2 linked regions of the Homo sapiens genome follow. The protein of the gene in region 1 purifies or fractionates together with the protein of each later gene. This does not show direct contact. Each region holds a gene or a part of one and is shown on either strand. Other genes may lie near its edges.

What was found.
Region 2: the proteins of FOXM1 (region 1) and CCNB1 purify together in Homo sapiens (affinity purification with western blotting; 4 studies listed by BioGRID, with this or other methods). This does not show direct contact.

The regions. Positions count from the first base shown.
Region 1 is NC_000012.12:2,863,675-2,867,174, forward strand, and holds part of FOXM1 (forkhead box protein M1), read right to left. Parts: intron 2,848-3,500; coding exon 2,719-2,847; intron 1,726-2,718; coding exon 1,681-1,725; intron 1,272-1,680; coding exon of another isoform or gene 1,211-1,271; intron 1,082-1,210; coding exon of another isoform or gene 1,079-1,081; coding exon 1,009-1,078; intron 822-1,008; coding exon 646-821; intron 1-645. UniProt on the Homo sapiens protein: Transcription factor regulating the expression of cell cycle genes essential for DNA replication and mitosis. Plays a role in the control of cell proliferation. Also plays a role in DNA break repair, participating in the DNA damage checkpoint response.
Region 2 is NC_000005.10:69,170,150-69,173,649, forward strand, and holds part of CCNB1 (G2/mitotic-specific cyclin-B1), read left to right. Parts: intron 1-1,120; coding exon 1,121-1,303; intron 1,304-3,500. UniProt on the Homo sapiens protein: Essential for the control of the cell cycle at the G2/M (mitosis) transition.

The DNA of each region.
Region 1 (3,500 bases):
GAGACCCACAGCGTCTAGCCTCAAATCCACTTCTTTCTTTTCTTTTTTTTTTTTTGAGACAGAGTCTCGCTCTGTCACCCAGGCTGGAGTGCAGTGATCTCGGCTCACTGCAACTTCCCTTCCTGGGCTCATGTGATTCTCCAGCCTCAGCCTCCCAAGTAGCTGGGATTACAGGCATGTGCCACCAAGCCCAGCTAATTTTTGTATTTTTTAGTAGAGACGGGGTTTCGCCACGTTGGCCAGGCTGGTCTCAAACTCCTGACCTCATGATCCACCTGCCTTGGCCTCCCAAAGTGCTGGGATTACAGGTGTAAGCCACAGCGCCCGGCCAAATCCATCTCTTTCTAAGGCCTGCCTCCCTTGTGTATCTTCCTTAATAATCCTAGCCCATCTATCACAATCACTTTTGTCTGAATTCTTACAAGCTCATCAGGTATTTATGGGCCTTCTGACACCACTTACATTGTAATCCAAATACCTTTTTAGCTCTTCTAATGCTATTACACTTCCCTATGTTTTTATGCCTTTTCTACCCAACTAGATTTATAAGCTCTCAAGGAACACTTATCAGAGTGCTTTGCAAGCTGAAGGTCCAACATTCTTAATTGGCCAGAATCTCTCTTCAGAGGAAAATAGGACACCCACCTTGGGGGCAATGCGGACTCGCTTGCTATGGCGGGCAAGCTCTGAGCTCATGAGGGAAGCCGCCAGGGGCAATGGCACCTTCACCGAGGGCTGCAACACCAGTGACTGGTTCACCGGGAACTGGATAGGTACCAGGTATGAGCTGACCCGTGGTAGCAGTGGCTTCATCTTCCGCCCTAGGAGGAAACACGAGAGATCAGGAGCAGGGGGACTGGAGTACACCCCTTCTCAGCCCCAGGAGCTTTGCTCTCCTTCTCTGGGCTCAGATCCCTTTGAGGTGGGAACAGAATCCCAGAGTCTGGTTCCCTAAAGATATGGCCCCAGAACAAGGACCAGGCCCAAGGCCCACTCTCCCATACTAACGTGCGCCCAGGGGGAGTTCGGTTTTGATGGTCATGTTCCGGCGGAGCTCTGGATTCGGTCGTTTCTGCTGCTGCTTGTGGCAGATGGGGAGAGAAAGAAACCTATGTTAACACAATAAGGTAAAGAGGGGATGGCAAAACCCCACCAGCTGCTCTGGTGGTGTGTGCTTGAGTTAATGACAGCCCAGAGAGAGGAGGCCAACCTGAGGGGATGGACGTAGGCGAGCAGTCTCCAAAACTGTGATGAGTGGGCAGGTGGGTGGCCTACAGACACATGATGGCAGAGTGGCACTACCGCTTCACCCACGTGTCCTCAACACCCCTGGGGGATGCCAGAGCAGGTAGCTATATGCGTGGCAAAGAAAAGCTAGGCACAAAAGTGAGCGAACGAACTGCCGCCCCTGAGGCTGGTGCCATGCGCTTGTGGCTGCTGCAGCATGCTCCCCTGCTGTGCCCTGCTCTGCTCAGTGTGCCCTTGTGATGCCCATGGAAGGGGAGGGAAGTGGGTGTGTGCCTGACCCTCAGGGTGTTCTGTGTCTAGGGCTGGCACCTAGACAAAACATGGCCATAGGGACCCTTCCCCACATCACATCTTGTCTCTGTCCACTAAAGCCATGCTGAGCAGTGAAAGGAAAACAAGGCCAAGCCCCGAGCCAGAGGGAAAGAACCTTACTGATTCCAAGTGCTCGGGCAATTGTGGAGACCCTGGGTCCAGTGGCTGGTGGCGGCCAGGCATTGTGGGAGAGAAATGAGATGAAGTTACCACCAACGTGGTCAATTTGACCGGATTGGGAAAAACACTTATTCCTGACTGATGACAAAAGACACCCCAGACAACTGCCCCTCCCAGGAGAATGGTTACAGCTACCAGCAGCCTTATGGGCACTCTGAAAAACCAAAATAACTTCTTTCTGAAAAGACGTTCTGGTAGCTCAGCTTCTGGTCTCCAGCCTAAGGCAGGCTTTTTTTTTTTTTTTTTTTTTTTTTTGAGACAGACTTTCACTCTTATTGCCCAGGCTGGAGTGCAATGGTGCGATTTCAGCTCTCCACAACCACCGCCTCCTGGGTTCAAGGGATTCTCCTGCCTCAGCCTCCCAAGTAGCTGGGATTACAGGCATGCGCCACCACACCCAGCTAATTTTTGTATTTTTAGTAGAGACGGAGTTTCTCCATGTTGGTCAGGCTGGTCTCCAACTCCCGACCTTAGGTGATCCACCTGCCTCAGCCTCCCAAAGTGCTGGGATTACAGACGTGAGCCACCACACCCAGCAGGAAGGGCTTTTTTTAGAGCAAGCATTCCCAGAATTTCTTGTAAGAATCACCTGAGATGCTTGCTAAAAATACAAATTCCTGGGCCCATCCCAGAAGCACTAAATCAAGAGCCCCAAGAGAGGGGTCTGGGAAGCTGTGTTTTAACAATGTCCCAGGCAATTCCCATTCACAGGGAAGTTAGGAAAACACTGCCCTGGGGAGCCCTTTCTGTTGGGTCAGAACAGCCTTCTCCTTGCTCTGGTCTGGCACAAAAATGTGTCATTTGGTATTTGTCAAGTGTACTTAATTCACTGGGTTTTGTGCAAGTCACTAATTGGGTGGCTGGCTTCTAACTCTCCCCTGATCAAATGAAAGCATCACTAGCAGAACTTGTTTCCTTTTGAGATGGCTATGACAACCTCCAACTTAGGCCCTATTTAGAGGAAAGCAGGGCATTCACCTTAAACACCTGGTCCAATGTCAAGTAGCGGTTGGCACTGGGGTGAATGGTCCAGAAGGAGACCTTGCCATTGGCAGACGTCTCCCGGACAAACATGTCGTGCAGGGAAAGGTTGTGGCGGATGGAGTTCTGGAAGAAGAGCAAGACAACTGGTTATCAGCTACTTTAGATTCAGAAACATCACCCTTCAAACACATGGGGAAACCAGCCTCAGGCCCCTCCCACTGTGCTCAGCACAGGCTTCGTCTGGTGTCTTTGCAGCCCTCTTGGCAACTCTCCTGACACTCCACACCGCAGAGCCGTCACCTTCAGCCATAAACCCATCTATTCTACGGGAATAAAGACTGATGCCAACCTTAGATTGTGATAAAGAAAAGACCTAGATAGCTGTCAGGGGCTAGAAAAGCAGAGTAAGGCTGTGAGGTAGTGATCAATAGCAAGAAAGGTGGCTCAGAGAAATTAAGAAACTAGGGAATTAGGCCCGGCGTGGTGGCTCACGCCTATAATCCCAGCACTGTGGGAGGCCAAGGTGAGTGGATCACTTGAGGCCAGGAGTTTGAGACCAGCCTAGCAAACATGGTGAAACCCTGTCTCTATCAAAAATATAAAAATTAGCCAGGCATGGTGGCGCATGCCTTTAGTCCCAGCTACTCGGGAGGCTGAGGCAGGGGAATCACTTGAACCTGGGAGGCAGAGGTTGAAGTTAGCCAAGATCATGTCACTGCACTCCAGCCTGGGTGACAGAGTGAGGCCCCGTCTCAAACAAACAAACAAGAAACTAG
Region 2 (3,500 bases), on another chromosome or scaffold:
TTTTTTTATTTTTAGTAGAGATGGAGTTTCACGATGTTGGCCAGGCTGGTCTCGAACTCCTGACCTCGTGATCTGCCTGCCTCGGCCTTCCAAAGTGCTGGGATTACAAGCGTGAGCCACCATGCCCGACCTTATTTCTTTACTTTGTCTACTAAATTCAGAGTCCTTTGAGGATGCCATGAAGTCAATGCCTTGTAGAGTTTGACTTCAAGAAGGTGCTCAATAAATGTTTGAACAATGGGATAAAGGGAGCTTGAAGGAAATGGTTAATGGCGATGAAGTTAGTTAATCCTTAGTAGTCAGGATAGAATTTGTGTTGAGTAGTGAGAAGCAGTTTATATTATGAAATAAAGACTAAAGACTGAATTGTCATTTATTTGGACTAACTTCACATGTTGCTGATAAAAATTAATTACTTCTCAGTTTCCTTTGCAGCAAAGTCTAGAATGTGAATTTATTTGCTTCCAACTTTAAACTGACTCACTCTAAGTTGGCATTTCACTGTTTTTTTTTTTGCCCAGGCTGGAGTAGAATGGCGCAATCATAGCTCACTGTATCCTCAAACTCCTGGGCTCAAGTGATCCTCCTGCCTGGGCCTCCTGAGTAGTTAGGACTGTAGGCAGCTGCCTTCATGCCCAGCTAATTTTTTGTAGAGATGAGTTATTGCTATATTGCCCAGGCTAGTCTGGAACTCATGGTCTCAAAGGATCCTCCCACCTCAGCCACCCAAAGTACTGGGATTACTGGCTTGAGCTGTTATGCCCAACCTCATTCTTTTTAATTGAGGAATTAAATGATCACTTTTTTCTTTTTTAACAGAGACAGGGTTTTGCTATGTTGCCCAGGCTGGTCTTGAACTCCTAGCCTCAACCTCAGCCTCTCAAAGTGCTGAGATTAAAGGTGTGAGCCACCGCGCCCAACCCAAATGATCACTTTTGATGTTAATCACTTCCTAAAAAGAAATGGAATAAATCTGAAAAGATACTTTTCCTTTAAGGAAATGAATTGTATGCCGATTCAGCAGAATACTAGCTTGAGTTGGTACCAATAACCTGAACTTCATGCCCAAACTATAGTGCTTACTTCTATTTGCTATTTCAAGATATCTCTTTGTTTCAAGGTTGATACTGCCTCTCCAAGCCCAATGGAAACATCTGGATGTGCCCCTGCAGAAGAAGACCTGTGTCAGGCTTTCTCTGATGTAATTCTTGCAGTAAATGATGTGGATGCAGAAGATGGAGCTGATCCAAACCTTTGTAGTGAATATGTGAAAGATATTTATGCTTATCTGAGACAACTTGAGGTAAGTATTATCATTCGTTTTTTTTCTAAACTGCATCTAACTTTATGAAAGTATTTTCCATCAATAGTTTATAATAATACAAGCAGGACGTGGGCAGCATTTCTTAAGAGATCGCACTTTCAAATTCTCCTTCATGGAATACCTATAATAAAAAGTCACTAAATAAACCAATGGAGTCTATTTGTCACTTTGTGCAGGAAAGTTCGAAGTTAGGGTGGATACTACTATCGCTTTCTAAAGGAAAATCCACAGATTGAATTTGATATGTATATATGCGATCTCCACCACGTTTGGAATGGTTAAGTCCCAAACTCTGCATTTTAGGTGATAACGGGTCAGGAAGTGGATGAGGATGTAGAATATACTCAAAGACTACAGCCACCCCTAACACAAGGCATTTTGTGTTAGTGTGGCTGATGTGCATCCAGTTGTTGGTGAAATTATTTGTGCCCAAAAGGAGTACACTCAAAAGCTACTTTTTTGGTTCACTTCAATTTGATCCCACTTTTGAAACTTTCTATTAATGGCATTTGCCCTTTCCCTACAAATACAAGCACTCTTTATGGCAGCATAAACATAGTAACATAAATTATACTGTTACCACATTTACGTAGTTTTTTTGTTGTTGTTGTTTTGTTTTTTTGAGATGGAGTCTCACACTGTCGCCCAGGCTAGAGGGCAGTGGTGCGGTCTCAGCTCACTGCAGTCTCTGTCTCCTGGGTTCAAGCAATTCTCCTGCCTCGGCCTCCCAAGTAGTTGGGGTTGCAGGCACACACCACCATGCCTGGCTAATTTTTTGTATTTTTATTTGGTTTTGGTTTTTTTGAGACAGGGTCTTGCTCTGTTGCCCAGGCTGGAGTGCAGTGGTGCAATCTCGGCTCAGTCCAGCCTCCGCCTCGGGTCAAGTGATTCTCATGCCTCAGCATCCCGAGCAGCTGGGATTACAGGTGCCCACCACAACACCCAGCTAATTTTTGTACTTTTAGTAGAGATGAGGTATCACCATATTGGCCAGGCTGGTCTCGAACTCCTGACCTTAGATGATCTACCCATCCCGGCCTCCCAAAGTGCTGGGATTACAGGCCTGAGCAACCGCACCCAGCCCCCAGTTGTTTCTAATGTGTTGTCTTATGTCATCACTGACATGTTCATCTCTTGCCTGCTCCTTTTTGGCCTCTCCTTTTTCTATAGGATTCTTCTGCAAGACTTCTTTGCCAGGAGCAGCCTTCTGCTTTTAGTTTCTTCTTCCATCTTTCTAGTGCTTTTTAAAGTTGTGTTCTAACTTTGGAGGATTCAATTTAGTAAATGTGCTGTTTCTTTTTTTTTTTTTTTTTTTTTTGGGACAGAGTCTCGCTGTGTCACCTAGGCTGGTGTGCAGTGGCACAATCTCGGCTCACTGCAAGCTCTGTCTCCCGGGTTCACGCCATTCTCCTGCCTCAGCCTCCTGAGTAGCTGGGACTACAGGCATCCGCCACCACGCCTGGCTAATTTTTTATATTTTTAGTAGAGACGGGGTTTCACCGTGTTAGCCAGGATGGTCTCAATCTCCTGACCTCATGATCCACCCGCCTTGGCCTCCCAAAGTGCTGGGATTATAGGTGTGAGCCACCGCGCCCAGCCTGTAAATGTGCTGTTTCTTGATGCTTCGTTCTTGTTCTGTGCAAGGCCATTTATGCAAAGCAACCCCTCAAGTGGCAGAGGAGCTGAGAAACCAAGGAATTAGGCAGATAAATGGAGTTTGCTGGTATTGGGTGACTGATGAGGGGGAATTTACAGACATAAGTATGGTCTTTGATGGCTGTAAGATGTAGATCTCTGCACTGTAACCCCTCGTACCCACGGCTTGGGTATGTATACATTTTCTTGGGCAAAGTATACATGCTCTAGAATCAATGTGTGGGTGGCTGACAGAATGCTGCAGACATCACAGCCTATAATGTATACAATAATATCAAGGGCTGTTTTGGAGGAAAGGCCAAACTTAAAGTGAATAGGCAGAAGTCACATTGAATTAGTATTTAAAATAAAGTCACTGTTGTCCCCACAGTTCTTAGCTATGTTGCTGTTGGGATTTAACCCAGGAGCAGGCAGGAGTGTTGTAGTACATGGGTTCCAGCTGCCCTGGGAGTTACTGATATTTTCTCTACATAAAGCTCAGGTTCTAAGTTTAGAGGCTTAAGTGAAAAGATCTGAGATG